4 linked regions of the Homo sapiens genome follow. The protein of the gene in region 4 interacts with the protein of the main gene of each other region in a pairwise test. Each region holds a gene or a part of one and is shown on either strand. Other genes may lie near its edges.

What was found.
Region 1: the proteins of SMO (region 4) and EMC10 interact in a two-hybrid assay, tested with the Homo sapiens proteins (one large-scale study listed by BioGRID and IntAct).
Region 2: the proteins of SMO (region 4) and HMGN4 interact in a two-hybrid assay, tested with the Homo sapiens proteins (one large-scale study listed by BioGRID and IntAct).
Region 3: the proteins of SMO (region 4) and LEPROT interact in a two-hybrid assay, tested with the Homo sapiens proteins (one large-scale study listed by BioGRID and IntAct).

What each region holds. Positions count from the first base shown.
Region 1 is NC_000019.10:50,488,000-50,492,138, reverse strand, and holds the end of EMC10 (ER membrane protein complex subunit 10 isoform 2 precursor), read right to left. Parts: 3' UTR 1,268-4,139; downstream 1-1,267. UniProt on the Homo sapiens protein: Part of the endoplasmic reticulum membrane protein complex (EMC) that enables the energy-independent insertion into endoplasmic reticulum membranes of newly synthesized membrane proteins.
Region 2 is NC_000006.12:26,539,678-26,544,417, forward strand, and holds part of HMGN4 (high mobility group nucleosome-binding domain-containing protein 4), read left to right. Parts: intron 1-4,740.
Region 3 is NC_000001.11:65,422,887-65,428,092, forward strand, and holds part of LEPROT (leptin receptor gene-related protein), read left to right. Parts: intron 1-2,416; coding exon 2,417-2,492; intron 2,493-4,895; coding exon of another isoform or gene 4,896-4,917; exon of another isoform or gene 4,918-5,123; intron 5,124-5,206. UniProt on the Homo sapiens protein: Negatively regulates leptin receptor (LEPR) cell surface expression, and thus decreases response to leptin. Negatively regulates growth hormone (GH) receptor cell surface expression in liver.
Region 4 is NC_000007.14:129,205,442-129,210,647, forward strand, and holds part of SMO (protein smoothened precursor), read left to right. Parts: intron 1-168; coding exon 169-341; intron 342-708; coding exon 709-928; intron 929-1,022; coding exon 1,023-1,146; intron 1,147-3,317; coding exon 3,318-3,410; intron 3,411-3,847; coding exon 3,848-3,956; intron 3,957-4,921; coding exon 4,922-5,107; intron 5,108-5,206. UniProt on the Homo sapiens protein: G protein-coupled receptor which associates with the patched protein (PTCH) to transduce hedgehog protein signaling. Binding of sonic hedgehog (SHH) to its receptor patched prevents inhibition of smoothened (SMO) by patched.

The sequences.
Region 1 (4,139 bases), on a different chromosome or scaffold from region 4:
CAGTGAGTTCCACCTGGCTTCCCCTCCACACGCTCCTGGTGGCTTCTCTTTGGCGCTTCTCTCTCTCTCTCTCTCTCTCTCTCTCTCTCTCTCTCTCTCCCTGTCTCTCCCATCTCTCGCTGTCTCTGTCTCATTTTCTCAGTCCGTCTCTGTCTCTCTCGCTCTGTCTCTCTCACTCTCTTGCCATCATTGTCTCTGTTTCTCTCGCTGTCTCTTTCTTTCTCACTCTCTCGCCATCATTTTGTCTGTTTCTCTCACTGTCTCTCTCTGTCTCTCGCTTTCTGTCTCATTGTCTGTCTCTCTCTGGCTATCTCTCTTTTACTGTCTCTCTCTCGCTGTCTGTCTCTCACTCTCTCTCTCGGTCTCCCTCTTACTGTCTCTCTCACTGTCTCTCTTGCTGTCTCCCTGTCTCTTTCTCTCACTCTTTCTCGCTATCTCTGTTTCTCTCAACGTCTCTGTCTCTCTCGCTGTCTCTTTCTCTCTCCATCTCTCGCCATCTCTCTCTCCCTCTCTGTCTCTGACACACTCTATTTCTCCCATCCTCCCCTCCATGGGGCTTTCCTGTTTCCTTTCCATCCTCACCTTCACTCGCTCTTTCCTCTCCGTTTTCTCCCTCACCCCACAAGCTCTCTCCCCTCGCCTCTAGTCCCCCAAGTCCTTCCCAGCTCCGCCTCTCCATGCCCGCTCCTTCCTTTCCAGTTCCTCTGCCAGTCATTGTCCTTGACCCTTCCCTCTCCTCGTCTCTGCTCCCACCGGCTCGTCTGAGCCTGGCGCTGACAGCCTTCTCCCCACCCCGCCCAACCCCACCCCCGACTCCCGCCATCCCCTCGCCTCCTGGTCCCTGTCCCCCTCCCGCGTCCCCGTCTTCTTGATGACTCCAACAGCTGCAGCTGCAGAGGCCCCGAGGCCCCTCGGAGGAGACTGGGCAGGGAGGGCTCCTCCGCATGCTGGGATATTTTTATCCTGCCTTGGACGATCGGGACGATTGGTCCTGCAATCTGTTTCACCCTTTAAGAAACTCATTTCATGTCCTGCCAGGTCCTGGGACCATAAGCTCGCGTGTCTCCACAGTTGCACATTCCCGTCCGTCTGCAGCTCATTATCTGGGCCACAAGGACGTTACCCCATGACTTGGAAGGACGCGCCATCACGCAGGAGGTCACAAAGTGGACGGCAGGAAAGCCAGCCTTCCCTCTTCTGCCTTCCTCCTCACCTCTCTCTCTCTCTCTCAGTACTTTGTTCTTGTTAATATCAGTGTATCAATGAGCCTGGTTTTTTGCCTTTTATTATTATTATTAACATAGTGAGCACAGGCGTTTCGTACTCTGCGTCTGATTTTCCAGCAGCGAAGCCTCTGCCATCCGCCCCACCGTCCCGCTGGCTCTTGCTCATTGTCTTTCCCTTCCCTGCTTGCCTGCTCCCTCACGCCCCTGCTCTGCGTGTTGGATGTGAAAAGGATGTCAGGGACTAGGCGGAGGGCATGTTCCTCCGAGCCCAGGCTGCACCTTGGCACAGTGGAGGGTCCACCCACCCCAGGTAGCCCAGGTGAGGCCCCTGGGTCCCCCTGTCACTCAGGCTGTCCACATGAAAGTCCAGATGTCTCCGACCAACAGATCCCTGGGAGAAAGGACGTGACGCTGCCGCTTCACCGGGATGGGTTCCCACGTCCCTCCGCGTTGACCCACAGCTTCCTTACGGTCTTGTATGTAGTTTGATGCTTTTAAGGGCCGGCCACGGTGGCTCAACGCCTGTAATCCCAGCACTTTGGGAGGCCAAGGTGGGCGGATCATGAGGTCAGGAATTCGAGACCAGCCTAGCCAAAATGGTGAAACCCCGTCTCTACTAAAAAATACAAAAATTAGCAGGCACGATGGCGGGCCCCTGTAATCCCAGCTACTTGGGAGGCTGAGGCAGGAGAATCGCTTAAACCCGGGAGGCGGAGTTTGCAGTGAGCCGAGATCGCGCCACTGCACTCTAGCTTGGGCAACACAGCAAGACTCCGTCTCAAAAAAAAAATTGTTAAGACTATTTTATCCAGGTTCCTACTTGTTTTCAGTTATGGGGTTGGGGGCGGGGTGGGAGGGCAATGACCTGACACAGTGTTACCGGATGAGGAGTCTGGTCTTGCTTTGCTTTCTCTGCCTTTTCTGTCTTGTCATTGGCTCTCCCGCCCTCCTACACGCACCCCGCCTGTTGCTTCTCTCATTCTCCAGTTCCCTTCCAATCCCCCTTCACTTCTCTTTACTCCCCTCCCCCAGGTCAGTGCTCGGCGTTTCCTCCCTCTTTCTGTTCTCCCATCCTCCCGGGCAGCTGTCTCTGTCCTGTTCTGTCTCCTGTTCTCCCGCCCCTCCAGCTCCTTCCCTTCCTCCTTTCTCCTGGGCCCTTCTCTGCCGCACCTTCCACAGCTGCTCTGTTCCTCCCCATCCTCGTCTAGTCCCATTCGTTGTCCTTTCTCTCCCTGGGTCACAGAGATGGCCCCGGGGTGGCTGCGCCCTGTTGAGGCAGGGAACGTTTCTGCTGCATGGCCGAGTTCCCAACCTGGACCCGCCGGGTCTGGCAGCCTGTCCCCGCAGTAGCCTGGGCTGTGCCCACGACACCCCCGCCGCCCAGCTACCCGGCCCTCTCCGTGCCTCACACTGGCTCCTAACCTGCTTCACGTTCCTGCTTCCTGCCCCGGTCTCTGGGCTGACGCTGTCTTAGGGGCGCCCCCTCCTCAGCTGGAGGGGCATGGTCCTCTGTCGCTACTTCCAATCCTCTCTCCCTTCTTTCTCTCCATATTGCTCTTCCACACTCATGCACCTCTTCTTTCCTTTCTGCTTTTTTTCTCGCTCACTCACCCGCTGGAGTGCAGTAGTGCAGCCTCCACCTCCCAGGCTCCAGTGATCCTCCTGCCTTAGCCTCTCAAAGTGCTGGGACCACAGGTGCGAGGCACCATGCCCGGCCTGTTCTTTTCTCTCTGCCCTTTTTTGTATTTTTTCCTTTCTCCTTTCCTTCTTCCCTAATGTCTGTCTCTCTCCTTCCCTTCTTAACTTCCCTTCTCTCTCCAGCCCTCTCCTACCCTCCTTTTCTCTTTTCCCCTATCTCCAGCCCTCTCCTACCCTCCTTCCCTCCCTCTTTCTCTCTCCCCCTCCGCACCGCTCCATCTCCCTCTCGGTCCAGTCCGCTGTCTGTGCCCCCTCTCTGTTCCGTTTTCTCTCCCACCCTTCTTCCCTCTCCCATTTCTTCTCTTTTCCCCTCTTCCTGTTCTCTTTTTCTCGCTGTCCTCTCTGTGGCCACCCTCCTTTTTCTCACTTCTGCTCTCCCTGTCCGGCTCTTCTCTCTCCTCTCTCCCTTCTAGCAGATTCTCTGGCTGTTTCCTCTCCTCTCCCTCTGTGCTCCTCCCTCCTCCTCTCTCCTCCCAGCCACTATCCTCTCTCTTCACCCTCTTCTCTTTCTGTCTCATGGTCTCCTCCTAGCTCTTTTCCTTCCCAGTTCCTAGCTCTCTCCTTTCTCTTTCCTCTTCTCTGGCTGGAGCTCCCCGCTCCTCCATCCCTCCCTCTCCCGGGGCCCCCTCTCCCCCACCCTCTTCTCCCCCAACACCCTCTCCCCCACCCACTTCTCCCTAGGACGCTCCCTCCTTCACCCGTTTCTCTGCTTCCCTCTTCTCCGAGCTCACCAGCCATGGCACCCACCCTCTCCCTCTCTTCCTTCCTGTCCCTTTTTTCACCCCCTCGTCTTTCTTTCCTCTTCTGTTTTTTCTTCTCTTTCCACTTCTGACCCCCTACACTGTTTCCTTCTTTCTCCCTCTTCCTCTCTCCCCTCCTGCTCTGGCCATCTTTTCTTTTTTTTTTTTTTTTTTTTTTTGAGACGGAGTCTCGCTCTGTCGCCCAGGCTGGAGTGCAGTGGCGCAATCTCGGCTCACTGCAAGCTCCGCCTCCAGGGTTCACGCCATTCTCCTGCCTCAGCCTCCCGAGTAGCTGGGACTACAGGCGCCTGCCACCATGCCCTGCTAATTTTTTTTTTGTATTTTTAGTAGAGACAGGGTTTCACCGTGTTAGCCAGGACGGTCTCGATCTCCTCACCTCGTGATCTGCCTGCCTTGGCCTCCCAAAGTGCTGGGATTACAGGCGTGAGCCACCGTGCCCGGCTCTTTCCTCCTG
Region 2 (4,740 bases), on a different chromosome or scaffold from region 4:
ATGTTAATGAGCTGTTTTCTTTTTATCATTTTCTTAAACAGGCTGCTTGGGTAGACGTTGACTTGAAAGGTCCATTCTTTTGTCATCTTGCTGGTTCCCTTAACAAGACAACACCTTGGCTAGCAAGATAATATCTTGGTTAGCAAGACAATAAACTTGGGCATGTGCTCAACAGCAACCTGTCTAATACATTTTCATTTAAAATCCCCTCTGTACTACTCAGAAATATAAGCAAGTTATTATGGTGCCCAGAAAGGGGGCAAAGGTTCCAGGGTCCTAGGAGATGACAAGGATTTATCCTCTTCATCTTTCTCCGATCCCAGTTAGCAGGAATACTTTAGCCTGGAAGGTGAGTGTGCCCCTAACCAACCTTTACAGATGGGTGACTGTTTGGGAGCTTATGGCTCACTCCTTCTCTTTAAAGCAGATGCATTCTGGCAAGCTGCAGCAGCAAACCTACCCTTTTAGACACCCTGCGTTTTCTCATCTTTCCTTTCTACCCCTGCATCTCCCAGTCTCTCTCACTTAACCTCCGTGGAAACTCATGCTGCGTCTCTAATACTTTGGAAGATGAAGAACAAACGCCCTGGAGAGTGACTGACACCATGTGACCTCTTGCTTCTGTAGCACACTGCATCTTGCCTGTGAATCTTTTTTTTTTTTTCTTTTTTTTTTGAGACCGGGTCTTGCTCTGTCACCCAGGCTGGAGTGCAGTGGCACAATCTTGGCTCACTGCAACCTCCGCCTCCCAGGCTCAAGTGATTCTCCTGCCTCAGCTTCCCAAGTAGTTGGGACTATAGGCATATGCCACCACACCCAGCTAATTTTTGTATTTTTAGTAGAAATGGGTTTCACCATGTTGGCCAGGCTGGTCTTGAACTCCTGACCTCAAGTGATCCACCTGCCTCCACCTCCCAAAGTGCTGGGATTACAGGCGTGAGCCACCACGCCCAGCATTTGCCTGTGCATTTTTTATTGTATTTTAATTATATCCTTTATTCTCTCCTTCCTAAGCTTGGTGTTCTTAACTTTCTTCCAGATCTTCCCTCCAACCCCCAAACACGATCTCTCCTTAAGTAAGAGGCAGGGAGGGAGAGGGGAACCTTCTGATTTCGGGGTGGGATTGAGGCTAAAACCCAAGTTAGAACTACCTCCCAGAAACCCAGTTCCGTATCCATCGAGTGATCAAAAAGATGCTGCTAAAATGTGCCTTGTGTTTGCTAGGGATGAGGTGAAAATGAGTATTGAATGAGGTGGCATTTTGGTCCATGGATTTGCTTGCTATGAAAGAGAAAAAACATGGAAAAATATATTTTGAGAGCTGGGTGAGACCCCCAAATTAATCTAATCCAAGATGTTTCCCTAGTCATTACATTCCTTTTTTTTTGAAACAGAATCTCACTCTATTGCCCAGGCTGGAGTGCAGTGGCGCAATCTCGGCTCACTGCAACCTCTGCCTCCCGGGTTCAAGCAATTCTCCTGCCTCAGCATCCTTAGTAGCTGGGATTACAGGCACGCACCACCACCCATGGCTAATTTTGTATTTTTAGTAGAGATAGGGTTTCACCATGTTGGCCAGGCTGGTCTCGAACTTCTGACCACCTTGGCCTCCCAAAGTTCTGGGATTACAGGCGTGAGCCACCACGCCCTGCCTGAGTCACTAAATTCTTACACTGTTCCCTCCTATGTTAGTCCGCTAGGGCTGCCGAAACAAGGTACCACAGGCTGAGTGACTTAAACAACAAAAATTAATTTTCTTTGACTTCTGGAGGATAGAAGTCCAAGATCAAGATGTCGGCAGGTTTGGTTTCTTCTGAGGCCTCTCCTTGGCTTGCAGATGGCCACCTCCCACTACATCCTTAGATGTGTTCCTCTATGTTGTCTGTATCCTAATCTCCTCTTCCTATAAGTACACCAGTAATATTGAATTAGGGCCCACCCATAATACCCTATTTTGCTTTTTATTTCACTATTAGTTTTTTTTTTAAAGCTATTTTTGCCAGTTAATTTAAACATCATGATCTTCTTCTAATGATAAAAATGCAAGTCTTCATGCTAACAAAAGGATTGGAAGAAGGATGAAGCAGATGTTTCTTCTCCCCTACAGCAATCTGGTTAAATGAGGAGTTAAATTGAGAGCTTTCATGAGAATTTCAGTCCAGTTCTGTGCAATGAAGACGAGTGATTCAAAACTTTCACTAACTTGCTCTGTTGTTTGTAATATAATGTTATTGGAAGAGTTATTTTAACAAAGGGGAACTGTTATATTTCTAAAACTTTTAAAATTGTTGCCATGTCTTGGGAAAATAACTTCAGTATCTGTCTTGATAATTTCTTGCCCTGATGATACCATTGAAAGTCATTTCTCTATGTTTCCAAAAGTTGTACAATTACTAGTAAGATTTATCTGCCAGTTAATAATTTTTCTTTTCTTCCACATGCATGAAGGAGTATTTGTAATGACTTTTATATTTTATCATTAACATTATTTTTTTGAACTCTTAAAATGCGTATTTTTTTTTTACATTAATAGACTTCCTTTTTTCAGAGCAATTTTTGGTTTACAGAAAATTGAGCAGAAGATACAGAGTTCCCACATACTTCCTTTCCCCCACCTCAGTTTCTCCTAAGTTATTAACAACTTACACTGGTGTGGTACATTTGTTACAAATGATGAACTAATATTGATAGCTTATTATTAACTAAAATATATAGTTTACATCAGGGTTCACTCACTGTATGAAGTTCTGTGGGTTTTGTCAAGTGCATAACATCTACCATTTTATAATATATGCCATTACAGTAGCATACAAAAGAGTTTCATTTACCTAAAAATCTCTTCTGCGCCACCTCAAATAATTTCTTCTGAGTTAAAACCACTGTGTGGTGAGAGCTCCTTCCTTTTCCAACCTCCTTGTCCTTTATGGAAATGGTAAGAGCTTTTACCCATCTCTCTGGTCCCTTTTCATTATGTGTGTATCTGTCTCCCACATTTGTAAGGTCTCTAGAGAGTCAGTGACCTGGTCTCCTAATCAGCTTCCTAAAGGTGAGTTTCAAGAATTAAATCCGTATTTATATACTCAGATACAGCATCCAGGCAGTGGCCTATTTTTCCTGATTTTATTTTGTCACCTGCTGTATTTTGGCCTTTGACATGTGGAGATCATGGCCCCCCTACTTCGGATGGACTTCAATGGATCTAACTCGAAGAAGACTGAACCCAGGAAAAGAGACTGTGTGAGCATTCTCACACCAGGAAATGGGCTGAGAAACAATTTTGGAGTGAGATGGAAGGAGAATGGTATGGAGTATCTATTCTTAGGGAAATGTGTGCTAGGCCAAAATCTCACTTTTTGGTTAAACACTCTCATTCTCTGATAACATAAAGGCCTCTAAAAATATATGCAGAATATTTGGGGTAACCTTATTATTCATTGCCCAAGTTAGGTCACCTTTCAAAGTAAAAGGGAACATTATGAATAATTATACTAGGGCAACAGGTATAAATCAAGTCACCCTACCATTAGACCAAGTGATTTTCACTGGTTCCTTCATTGTAAGAGTAACTCCTTTTGTTTCCTAAAAATTGTTAAAATGATTCCTTAATGTTGCATTTGAAATAAAGGGAAAAAGACAAAAATTAGCAATAAATTCATGTAATGTCTAGGCAAGGATTTCTTCAGAAGAGAGCAGGTCAGGTGTAGTTAGATCAGTAGAACTGTATGTCTCAGTGGCACCATTACCTTTTTTTTTTTTTTTTTTGAAGCAGAGTCTCACTCTGTCCCCCAGGCTGGAGTGCAGTGGCACAATCTCGGCTCACTGCAACCTCCGCCTCCCAGGTTCAAGCAATTCTCAGGTGGATCACCTGATGTCAGGAGTTCGAGACTAGCCTGGCCAACACGGTGAAACCCTGTCTCTAGTAAAAATACAAAAATTGGCTGGGTATGGTGGCGTGCGCCTGTAATCCCAGCTACCCAGGAGGCTGAGGCAGGAGAATTGCTTGAACCCGGGAGGCAGAGGTTGCAGTGAGCCGAGATCGCACCACTGCACTCCAGCCTGGGTGACAGAACGAGACTCTGAGACTCTATCTCAAAAAAAAAAAAAAAAAAAAAAAAAAACTGGAGCAATTTGGAGACAAGATTAAAAAAATAATAATAACATTGTAGAATGGTGGCCACTCACAAGGTTACAGAATTTCCCAGTAAATGTTTTCAAGGGTGGGGCAGAAGGTATGATAGACAAAAGCTTTAAAAAAGTCACACAGTGCCCATGAATGCCAGCCCTAGGCCTAAGTCCTAATTACTCAAACTCAAACTATTTTCCATTTCCTACCTGTGTGGCTCTCAATCTGTGCTCTGGGCTACCCACATTTTTTAGTACTTTTATTAATTCTTGAGCAGACACATACAATTTTTCTGTGTAAGACATAGGTAATACTCCAGCCATGTGCTTCCCCTACAGTTTAAAGAAGAGAATGCAACCTCCCCCATCTCTGGACTAACCTCCATGCCTTCTCCAACTACATCCCTTTCCCAACTCCCAAGAGATGACCACTGTCCAATTTTTATTTATCCCTTTTTTTTTAAGTTTTACTATATGTTTGTGGCCTCAACATGTCATAGTTTTACATGTGTAAATGGATCTATAGTGTACATATTCTTCTGCAACTTGCTATTTTTCTTCGGCATTATATTCTTGAGATTCATCCTCGTTTTTGAACCTACCTGTAATCTATTTGTT
Region 3 (5,206 bases), on a different chromosome or scaffold from region 4:
ATAGTTGAAAGATCACTGTCTGCTGTGTAGAGGATGGATTGGAAGAGTCACAGAGGCAGGAATAAGAGGTTAAGGGCCTGCACCAGGGCTGTAGCAGAGAGTTTAAGAAGTCTGGGAGATTGAGTCACCTTGACCTACTGATTCATTGGAAGGTGGAATGCAATCATGGTGTCAGTCCTCTAAGATAGGACCTTTAAAGTGTAGGGATAGTGGTTTGGTTTTACACGTGTTACACATGTTGAATTTGAGGTTCTTGTTGGCGGTCAAGGCAGAGAAGTCCAGACTGGAGGTGGAAGTACAGGCCTAGTTCTTTAGGACCTACTCTGGGCTGGAGCATCAGTTGCGGCCGGGCCCTTGTGGTAGTAGGAGCTTTGGGTTGAACATAAGTTTTCAGCAGGAGTGCGTGGAGTGAAAAGAGAGATGGGGTTGGATTTTTGGTCAACTCCAACTTTAAGAGATTCAGAGGATGTGATTCCTGAAAAAAGAGGAAAAAAAAGACCAAAAAGAATCAAACAGAAAGATGGTTGTGAACGTTGAGAAACTGGTATCAGAACAGAAGGAAGAGGTCTGCAGTACCTAGCTTTGACAGGCCTCATGGAGGAGGGGGTACTGCCGATGGTCAGGCACAGAGGAGAGGAGCAAAGCCTGCTGGGAAAAGATCATCTGAATGAAATAGTATGTGGTATTTGCTTTCCATCCACACATGGGCATTTTCCATTAAAGAGTGGAAATGTAAAAAGATATGTTAAAATTGACAGTGTTTCTTTGTCCCTTAACATGTGTATACTTTCAGATGTTTTTTAAAAAGCACTTTGGCACCTTCCTATTAAAGAGTCTCTCTAAATCTTCTCTCAAGTAAAAGGAAGCAATCAAAAATGTTCATTGGCTTAATTAATTAGTTTAATACTAATTATGAGTATTATGGACTTTTTTCAGAAGAAAATTTGGATAAGATAGTCTCCTATGCTTTTGATTTCTACCTTTATCAAAGAACATTGCTAAAATGAGTAGATACCTGAGTCAGTCAGCATTTATTTGGCTACCTCCTTTTGCCAAGCACTTTACATAGATTATCTCATTTAATTCCCATAAGCTCAATAAGGTGGCACCATTATTTCCATTTTACAGGTGAGAAATCAGGTTCAGAGGATTAGCTTCTACCCAAAGTCATAAGACCAGATGGTGGCAGAGTTAAGATTTGACTCATGTTTGTGACTCAGAGCTCAAGATTTTGTAACAACCTTGATACTCTGTTTCTCACTCAGCAGCACAACAAGGGCAAATACGTTCCTACTCCCGCAGAGACTAGTGTCCAATAGATACAGGGAATACATATTTTATTCAGTGCACACTAGTTGGGAATTGTTTCCTACAAAGACATGAAAACAATCTTCAAATACTTGCAGTACTGTGGTTTGGGGAGGCAAAATGATCAAAGGTATATATTACAGGGAGGCAGTTCTGGATATAATTTAAAGAAGGAGGGCTTTCAACATTTAGAAGCTGTTGGAATTAAATGACTTGCCTTGGGAGGTAGTGAGTTTTCCTTCACTGGAGTTATGTGGACCAACTGGCTGCCCTCTGGTGACAAATACAGAGGGAATTCATCCATTGGATAGGGGTTAGGTACTGGAATTACTTGAGACCTTTGTATACTTTATGATTTCAAGGTGGCAGACATGGGTCATTGTCTTAATCAGTTTGGGCTACTATAAGAAATATATTTTAGACTGGGTGGCTTAAACAACAAACATTTAGTTTCCACAGTTCTGAAGACTGGGAAGTCCAAAATTGTGGTGCAGTCAGATCTGGTGTCTGGTGAGAGCCAGCTTCCTGGTTTGCAGGCCTGCTTTCTGCTCTCACATTGGAGAACAGAGGGAGAGAAACACAGAGAGAGTGTGTGCTCTACTTTCTCTCTTCTTATAAGGGCACTCATCCCATCGTGGAGACCCCACCCTCATGACCTCATCTGAACCTAATTATCTCCCAAAGGTCCACCTCCTGATAGCATCTCACGGTGAGAGGGATGGAGCCGGGAAGGTTTCAACATGTGAATTTGAAAGGGACACACATAATGCAGTCTGTAACGGGTCAAATGTAACCTCAATAAAATGAGTAAATTGCTACATTTGCTTGAATTTGGGACCTTTTTTTCTTTCTTTTTTATTTTAGTAAATGTTTTTATTGATAAATGATTCACATACCATAAAATTAACATTCTTAAAGTGTAAGATTTCATGGTTTTTAGTATATTCAGAAGGTTATGCAGCCATCACTACTATCTAATTCCAGAAAATTTACTCATCCGCCAAAGAAACTCTGGACCTATTAGAAGTCACTCCCCATTTCCCCAAACCCTCTAGTGCCTGACAACCTCTACTGTGGGAACTTTAACTTTTGGCTTTATTTTTCACAGCTCTCGTGGCATTATCCTTCAGTGGGGCTATTGGACTGACTTTTCTTATGCTGGGATGTGCCTTAGAGGATTATGGGTAAGTTATCATTTCAAAAAGAACTATTCCTCTTTCTGTGTCTTTGTCACTATTAGTATGGGTGTTAGAGAGTTCGGTCAATTTAGCACCAAGTTCTAACCAGTGAGTTAGTGGAGCCCAGTTTATGAACACAGTCCCTTTGTGGGTCAGGTGTACTTTTGCAGAGGGCTCTGTTAAAAATTGATGTATTCATTCCATAAGCATTTGTTTAACACCTACTCTGGACTAGCTGGGGACACACAAATGAAGAGAGAGTCCTGTCCTCAAAGAGGAGGTAAAGTTCTAGTTGTGAGTGAGAGACAGGCAAACGGTCTAGTCAGTAATCTGGCAGCTGCAGTGGAGATGCCAGCACAGTACGCTGGAGCTCGGATAAAGTGCACCTGAGTTTCAGTGGGACAGTCAGGGAAGGCTGCATGGCAGAGGTTGTATCTGAGCCAAGACTAGGTGGATGAATAAGAGTTTTTCAGGGTGATGAGTCAGGGGAGGACATTCCAGGCAGAGGGAACATTCTACACATTTTTTCATTCAACCATTGTTGGTTGAATGCTTCCCATGTGCCAGCTACTGTTATGGGAACTAGGGATTAAGACATAAGAAAACAAAGGTCCTGCTCTCTCAGAGTTTGTGTTTCAGTGGGGGAGACGGACAGTAAACAACAAAAGTATGCATACTGTCAGAGGTAGAAATGGTACAAAAGATGAAGAGCACAGAAGCTGGGAAGACAGTGGTCAGGGAGGGCCTCTCAGAGGAGGTAAAAAGTGAGAAGAAATGTCAAGAAAATCAGCAAGCAGGCCATACAGATCTCTAGGGAAAAAGCACTTTAGGCACCAGGAAAGCTGAATGCTAAGGCCCGGAGACATGAAAGTGTATATAGCCTTTTCAGGAAACCACACATGGTACATTATGGTACAGCATAAATTGTAGTGGAGTGGCAAAAGAAGGGTTAGTCAAGAGTGTAAAAGTCAGCACTTAGGGCTCTATATGCCTGCCGTGTAGAGGAGGTTCCATTTTATACATCAGACAATAGAACCTGGGAAAATATCTTGAGAATGGGTTTGGAGGAGGGGGTTATGTTAAAATGTCATTCTTGCCATAACGTGAGACTAGATAGGAAAGAGCTGAGACTGCAGTCAGGGAGAATAGTAGGGGACTACTATCATAAATCAAGCAAAATTGAGGGCTGGGGCAGTAGGAATGGAAAGAAAAGGAGAGTGAGTTAGGAAACCAAACCAACCAACAGGTTTTGTTCATCGATGTCAGGATTCAACAAGGAGGGAGAGTTCTTAGATGTCTCCCAGGTGATTGGCTTGAACAACTAGATAGAAGATGATGTGATTAGGCCAGGCACCATGGCTCACGCCTGTAATCCCAGCACTTTGGGAGGCTGAGGCGGGCAGATCACGAGGTCAAGAGATCGAGACCATCCTAGGCAACATGGTGAAACCCCATCTCTACTAAAAATACAAAAAATTAGCTGGGCGTGGTGGCACACGCCTGTATTCCCAGCTACTTAGGAGGCTGAGGCAGGAGAATTGCTTGAACACAGGAGGTGGAGGTTGTAGTGAGCCAAGATCGTGCCACTGCACTCTAGCCTGGCGACAGAGCAAGACTTTGTCTCCAAAAAAAAAAAAAAGATGATGATGATGTGGTTAAGACCTATTGAAGTGAGTTATTATGACAGTGATGAATTCAAATCCATCACCGCAGTCCTGGCCAACTATTACAGAAATTGTTTAAACCCAAGAGGGATCCAGATATAAGCGGTCACTTATATTTGTTTAGAGCCTTCACAGCAATTACTTTATTCTAGCTTTTGGAATGTAATACGGTATTATTATCCTCATTTCTCGCTGGGAAACCAAAGCCCAGGGTAGTTAAAGACTTACCCAGATTGAACAGCAGTAAGTGACAGAGCCCGGCCGTGGTGGCTCATGCCTATAATCCCAGCACTTTGGGAGGCAACGGTAGGAGGATTGCTTGAAGCCAGGAGTTTGAGACCAGTCTGGGCAACAAAGTGAGACCCCATTCTACAAAAAACTAAAATAAGCCAGGCATGGTGCCTGTAGCAGGGTTGGGAGGCTGAGGTGGGAAGATTGGTTGAGCCCAGGGGTTGGAGGCTGCAGTGAGCTGTGATCACACCACTGCAGTCCAGCCTGGGCGACAGAGTGAGACTTTGTCTCTTAAATAAAAAAGTAGAAAAAAAATTAAAATGGCAGACATGGAAATGGAGCTCATGTTCTGACGCCCTTGACCAAACGTTTTTCCACTATTCCACAACCAACTGTAAATCTAGGAGTTTTAATTCTCTGTGATACACTGTCTTTGTAAGGTAAGAAAATGACTCATTACTGCTACTACAAATAAGTTTGTTTTCTATCTTTATTTTAATTTTTTGTTTTTTAGAGATGCCACAACACCCAGCTGATTTTTTTTAGAAGTTTTTGTAGAGACCGAGTCTCTCTGTGTTGCTCAGGCTGGTCTTGAACTCCTGGCCTCAAGTCATCCTCCTGCCTTGGCCTCCCAAAGCTGTATCTTGATAGTGAACCAGGATTATCATCTATATTGGAAGTCAGCAAACTGCCACATATAACCTGCTACCTGTTTTTGTAATAAAGGTTTTATTGAAATACAGCCATGCTCATTTGTTTATGAATTATCTTTGGCTGCTTTTGCATTGCTCTGCCAATTATCTTTGGCAGAGTTGAGTAGTTGAG
Region 4 (5,206 bases):
CCCTCAGCCTGGAACGTGGGAAGAGAGCCAGAGGGAAGGGGGGCAAAGAGGTCTTGGTGGGGGTCCCCAGGGAAGGGTCATGATCAGAAGGGTCTGGGGCTCAGTTAAGGGTGTCTGTGTCAGCAGAATAACCCTAACCTCACAGAATGGCCCACTTCTCTCTTCTAGGCCACATTCGTGGCTGACTGGCGGAACTCGAATCGCTACCCTGCTGTTATTCTCTTCTACGTCAATGCGTGCTTCTTTGTGGGCAGCATTGGCTGGCTGGCCCAGTTCATGGATGGTGCCCGCCGAGAGATCGTCTGCCGTGCAGATGGCACCATGAGGCTTGGGGAGCCCACGTAGGTGTCTTGGGGACCCAGAGGTGAAGGTACAGGGAGGAAGGCTGAAGTGTGCGTTTACCCCAAAGGGAGCAGGTGCGTGTAAAACCGAGATCCAGGGCAGGATCTGGCTCTGCCCTACTGCATACTGCATGCAAGATCTCCAGTGTTAGGATCTTAGTTTCAGAATCAGGACCTTCATGGTTTGTATCTGCTCAAAGGGGCGGCTCCTAGAGCCTCCTCAGATCTGACCTGGGTCCTGTCTCCAAGCCCTGACTTCTGGGAACCTCCAGACCTCAGCAGCTGAGGGTCTGGGCACAGGGTGGGGAGACCAGGTAGAGGGAGTACAGAGTGACCGCCTCAAGTGACACCTCACCTCTCTGCACAGCTCCAATGAGACTCTGTCCTGCGTCATCATCTTTGTCATCGTGTACTACGCCCTGATGGCTGGTGTGGTTTGGTTTGTGGTCCTCACCTATGCCTGGCACACTTCCTTCAAAGCCCTGGGCACCACCTACCAGCCTCTCTCGGGCAAGACCTCCTACTTCCACCTGCTCACCTGGTCACTCCCCTTTGTCCTCACTGTGGCAATCCTTGCTGTGGCGCAGGTATAGTGACTGGTAGGAACGGGAGACCTGGATGGGGTGAGTTTGAGGGAGGGGGCCAGTAACCCACCTTCTGTCCCACCCCTTCCTGCTGCAGGTGGATGGGGACTCTGTGAGTGGGATTTGTTTTGTGGGCTACAAGAACTACCGATACCGTGCGGGCTTCGTGCTGGCCCCAATCGGCCTGGTGCTCATCGTGGGAGGCTACTTCCTCATCCGAGGTGAGTGAAGACCAGGCCAGGACCAGTTGGGCAACAAAATATACTGGGCACTTGCTGCCAGTACTGGGAGCTGCCAGCACGGCTGCCCCCATGCTGAAACCCCAGCTAGCTCCTATAGGGCCTTCACACAGTAGAAGGTGACCCTCTAGGCAGACGAAACACCGTGAGCACTTGCTGCGGGACAGCACCTTTGTACTGGCCAGAAAAATCCATCCCTCTCTCCAGGGCCTTGGCCCAGGGCTCACAGCTTGTTTTTTTTGTTTGTTTTTGTTTTTGAGACAGAGTCTAGCTCTGTTGCCCAGGCTGGAGTGCAGTGGCACAATCTTGGCTCACTGCAACCTTCGCCTCCTGGGTTCAAGTGATTCTCCTGCCTCACCCTCCCCCATAGCTAAAATTACAGGCATGCACCACCACGTCTGGCTAATTTTTGTATTTTTAGTAGAGACGGGGTTTCACCATGTTAGCCAGGCTGGTCTTGAACTCCTGACCTAAAGTGATCCACCACCTCAGCCTCCCAAAGTGCGGAGATTACAGGCATGAGCCACAGTGCCCAGCCTCACAGCTTGTTAGGTGGAGTTGGGTCAGGATCCAGCCCCAGTCAGCTCCTGGCCGGTGCACTTGTGTGATGAACACCCTGAGTAACCTACTCTGCCCACTTGGACCAACCTAGGTCGTTTGGTTATCTGTGTGCACATTAATTCGATATGTACTGTCAATCTTCTGGAGCTTGGTTTTCATCTTCTTTCTGTCCCCGGCACACACAGCTCTCACAGCATGCGTGGAATTAGTGGTCCCTAACTTTCCTGTCTCATGCTGCCATCCCATAGTAAGCCTCAGCATCTATTTAGCTCATTGTTGTTGGGTTTTCTTTGTAAACCTCAGTTTCCTCACCCTGAACTGCCAGCCTTCTGTTCAGTCACCTCTTTCCCCTCTTTTTGGCATAGTGTCTGGCCCTCTGATTTGTGCTTCGTTATCATGCTGTCCTAGTATGGTAATCACTAGCCACATGTGTTGAACTAGTCCAGCCTGGGTGCGGCGGCTCACTCCTGTAATCCCAGTACTTTGGGAGGCTGAGACGGACGGATCACTTGAGCTCAGAGTTCGAGACCAGCCTGAACAACATAGTGAAACCCCATCTCTACAAAAAATACAAAAGTTGCCTGGGCAGGGTGGCACATGCCTGTGGTCCTAGCTATGTGAGAGGCTGAGGTGGGAGGCTTGCTTGAGCCCAGGAGGTTGAGGCTGCAGTGAGCCATGATCTTGCCACTGCACTCCAGCCTGAGTGACAGAGTGAGACCCTGTCTCCAAAGAAAACAAGACAACAACAAAAAGAAACAAGTCCAAATTGAGATGTGTTGTAAAATGTGAAATACACACTGTATTAAAAAAAAAACTTAGTGGGAAAAAAATGTAAAATATCTCATTAATAATTTGTTACATGGATTACATGTTGAAATGATTTTATTTTGAATATATTAGGTTTGTAAAATATATTGATATTAGTTTTGCTTGTTTCTTTTAACTTTTTTTAAGTGGCCACTAGAAATTTGCCATATGTATGTGGCTCACATATTTCTATGGGAAGGCCGGCATGGTGGCTCACACCTGTAATCCCAGCACTTTGGGAGGCCGAGGTGGGCAGATCACCTGAGTTCAGGAGTTCAAGACCATCCTGGCCAACATGGTGAAACCCCATCTTTACAAAAATACAAAAATTAGCCGGCGTGATGGTAGGTGCCTGTGATCCCAGCTGCTTGGGAGGCTGAGGCAGGAGAATTGCTTGAACCTGGGAGGCGGAGTTTACAATGAGCCGAGATCACGCCATTGCACTCCAGCCTGGGCGACAGGGTTCCATCTCAAAAAAAAAATTATATGGATAGCGCTGTTCTTGAGTCTGTTTTATGTCTTTCCCATCAGAACAGCTTTGATCTGCCCCCTTCTTCAGGGGCAGCTGGGCCACGACCGAGGCTCCCTCTTCTCAAGTGTCTGTCTAGGCTCTGCCCTGGTCTTCTCACCATTTCTCCAGTGTCTCTAGCTCCCCAGGTTTTCATTTAGCACAGGGGTAATCAGACTTGGGACTCCAGAGCCTTAGGACCCTCCTCCCACTCACCCATCCTTCCCAGCAGGGCAGCCTCACCCCTGCTAATGTCTGAGGTCCCCCTTCTGTTCAGGAGTCATGACTCTGTTCTCCATCAAGAGCAACCACCCCGGGCTGCTGAGTGAGAAGGCTGCCAGCAAGATCAACGAGACCATGCTGCGCCTGGGTGAGTGGCCCCGGGGGACTTCGGTCTGAGGTCCTGGCCAGCCCAACACTGCACCCTCCTGGGGCTATGCGACCGGCAGGATGCAGTAAGTCAGTGGGACAAGTTAGCCATAGGGACAAGGACAAGGGGTGTGTGTAGGTGGTAGTGGTAGTGGCAGCTCAAAAGAAGGGGGTCTACTCGGGGGGAAGAATTCAGTCAAGTTCATGCCGGGACTGGTTCCTCCTGCCCACTACGTCCCACGTGGTCCCTCCCACAGTTGCTTCAAGTGCCCTTCTTATTTTATTTTAGAGAAAGCAGTTCTTGGACTGAGCCCAGCATGAGTTCACCCCAGCCCCAGCTGGGTGAACTTTGAGGCCCAGTGGGGCAGACTCTCTCCTCCCCACTGCTGCTGCGGGACTGGGCTTGGTAACGTCCTGTCCTGCCCCTGTCCTCCACAGGCATTTTTGGCTTCCTGGCCTTTGGCTTTGTGCTCATTACCTTCAGCTGCCACTTCTACGACTTCTTCAACCAGGCTGAGTGGGAGCGCAGCTTCCGGGACTATGTGCTGTGAGTGAGGGGCATGGAGGCGGCAGTGCTGGGAGCTGGAGCCAAGGCCATAAAGACACCCACCTCCACCCACCGGGCAGCAGGGATTTGCCAGGTCCCTGCTGCAGACAGCAGATTCAATGGATGGTGTCTGGGTGCATAAGGCATCAGTCTCCGTAGTTTCTCAAACGTGGCAAACAACCTTCGCATCCCTTCTCACCTCTGCCCTTCCCTCTCCACCCCCTTGGTTGCCCAGCTGGTGCATGTGTGACTGTTAAGCAGCCAGTTCAGCTTCGTCTTCTCTGACTGACACTAAGTTGCCCTCTAATTCTGTGTGCTCTCCTGCAGAGCCTGCTTTAGATCCTGGCACAGGACTAGTTACCTCTCTGTGATAGGTTAATGACCTGCTAATGTTGGCTAGTTTTTGCCTGTGCTTTTTTGTGTCATAATGAGGATGGATTGGAGAGAGTAAGACATTGCTACTGCTGAGAGAAGCGCAGTACCCACTGTTACAAGGACAGTCGCTAAAATGGATGCTAGTCCAAGCCCTGACTGCTTCAGGCTCTTCCGTAAAGGTTCCGGCTTCCAGTCTGGGATGCTTTAAACCACAGTGATGCCTGAGTCTCTGCCCCAGAGATTCAATTTAATTGTCTAGGGTGGGTCCCAGGCATCAGTAGCTATTAAAAGCTCCCCAGTTGATTCTAATGAGCACCCAGGGTTGAGATCAGTGCTGTGGAGCTTAGCCCTTTCTAAAGTTTTTGGATTGATTGTCTGAGTCTACCCAGTAGACTCAGAAAACCCCACCTGTAGTCCCAGCTACTTGGGAGGCTGAAGCAGGAGATTGCCTGAGCCCAGGAGTTGGAAGCTGCAGTGGGTTGTGATCACGCCACCGCACTCTAGCCTGGGTGACAGAGCAAGATCCTATCTCAAAAAAAGAGAGAGGAAAAGAAAGGAAAGCCTCACCTGTCTACGTTCCCTCACTGTAGATGTCAGGCCAATGTGACCATCGGGCTGCCCACCAAGCAGCCCATCCCTGACTGTGAGATCAAGAATCGCCCGAGCCTTCTGGTGGAGAAGATCAACCTGTTTGCCATGTTTGGAACTGGCATCGCCATGAGCACCTGGGTCTGGACCAAGGCCACGCTGCTCATCTGGAGGCGTACCTGGTGCAGGTGGGCATGGCAGCCAGCCCCTCCTGCCCTGCCCGCCTCACCCTCAGCCTTGGGACCCCATCTTTAGGTTTTGTCGGGTCCTGCCTCTAGCACAGCCTT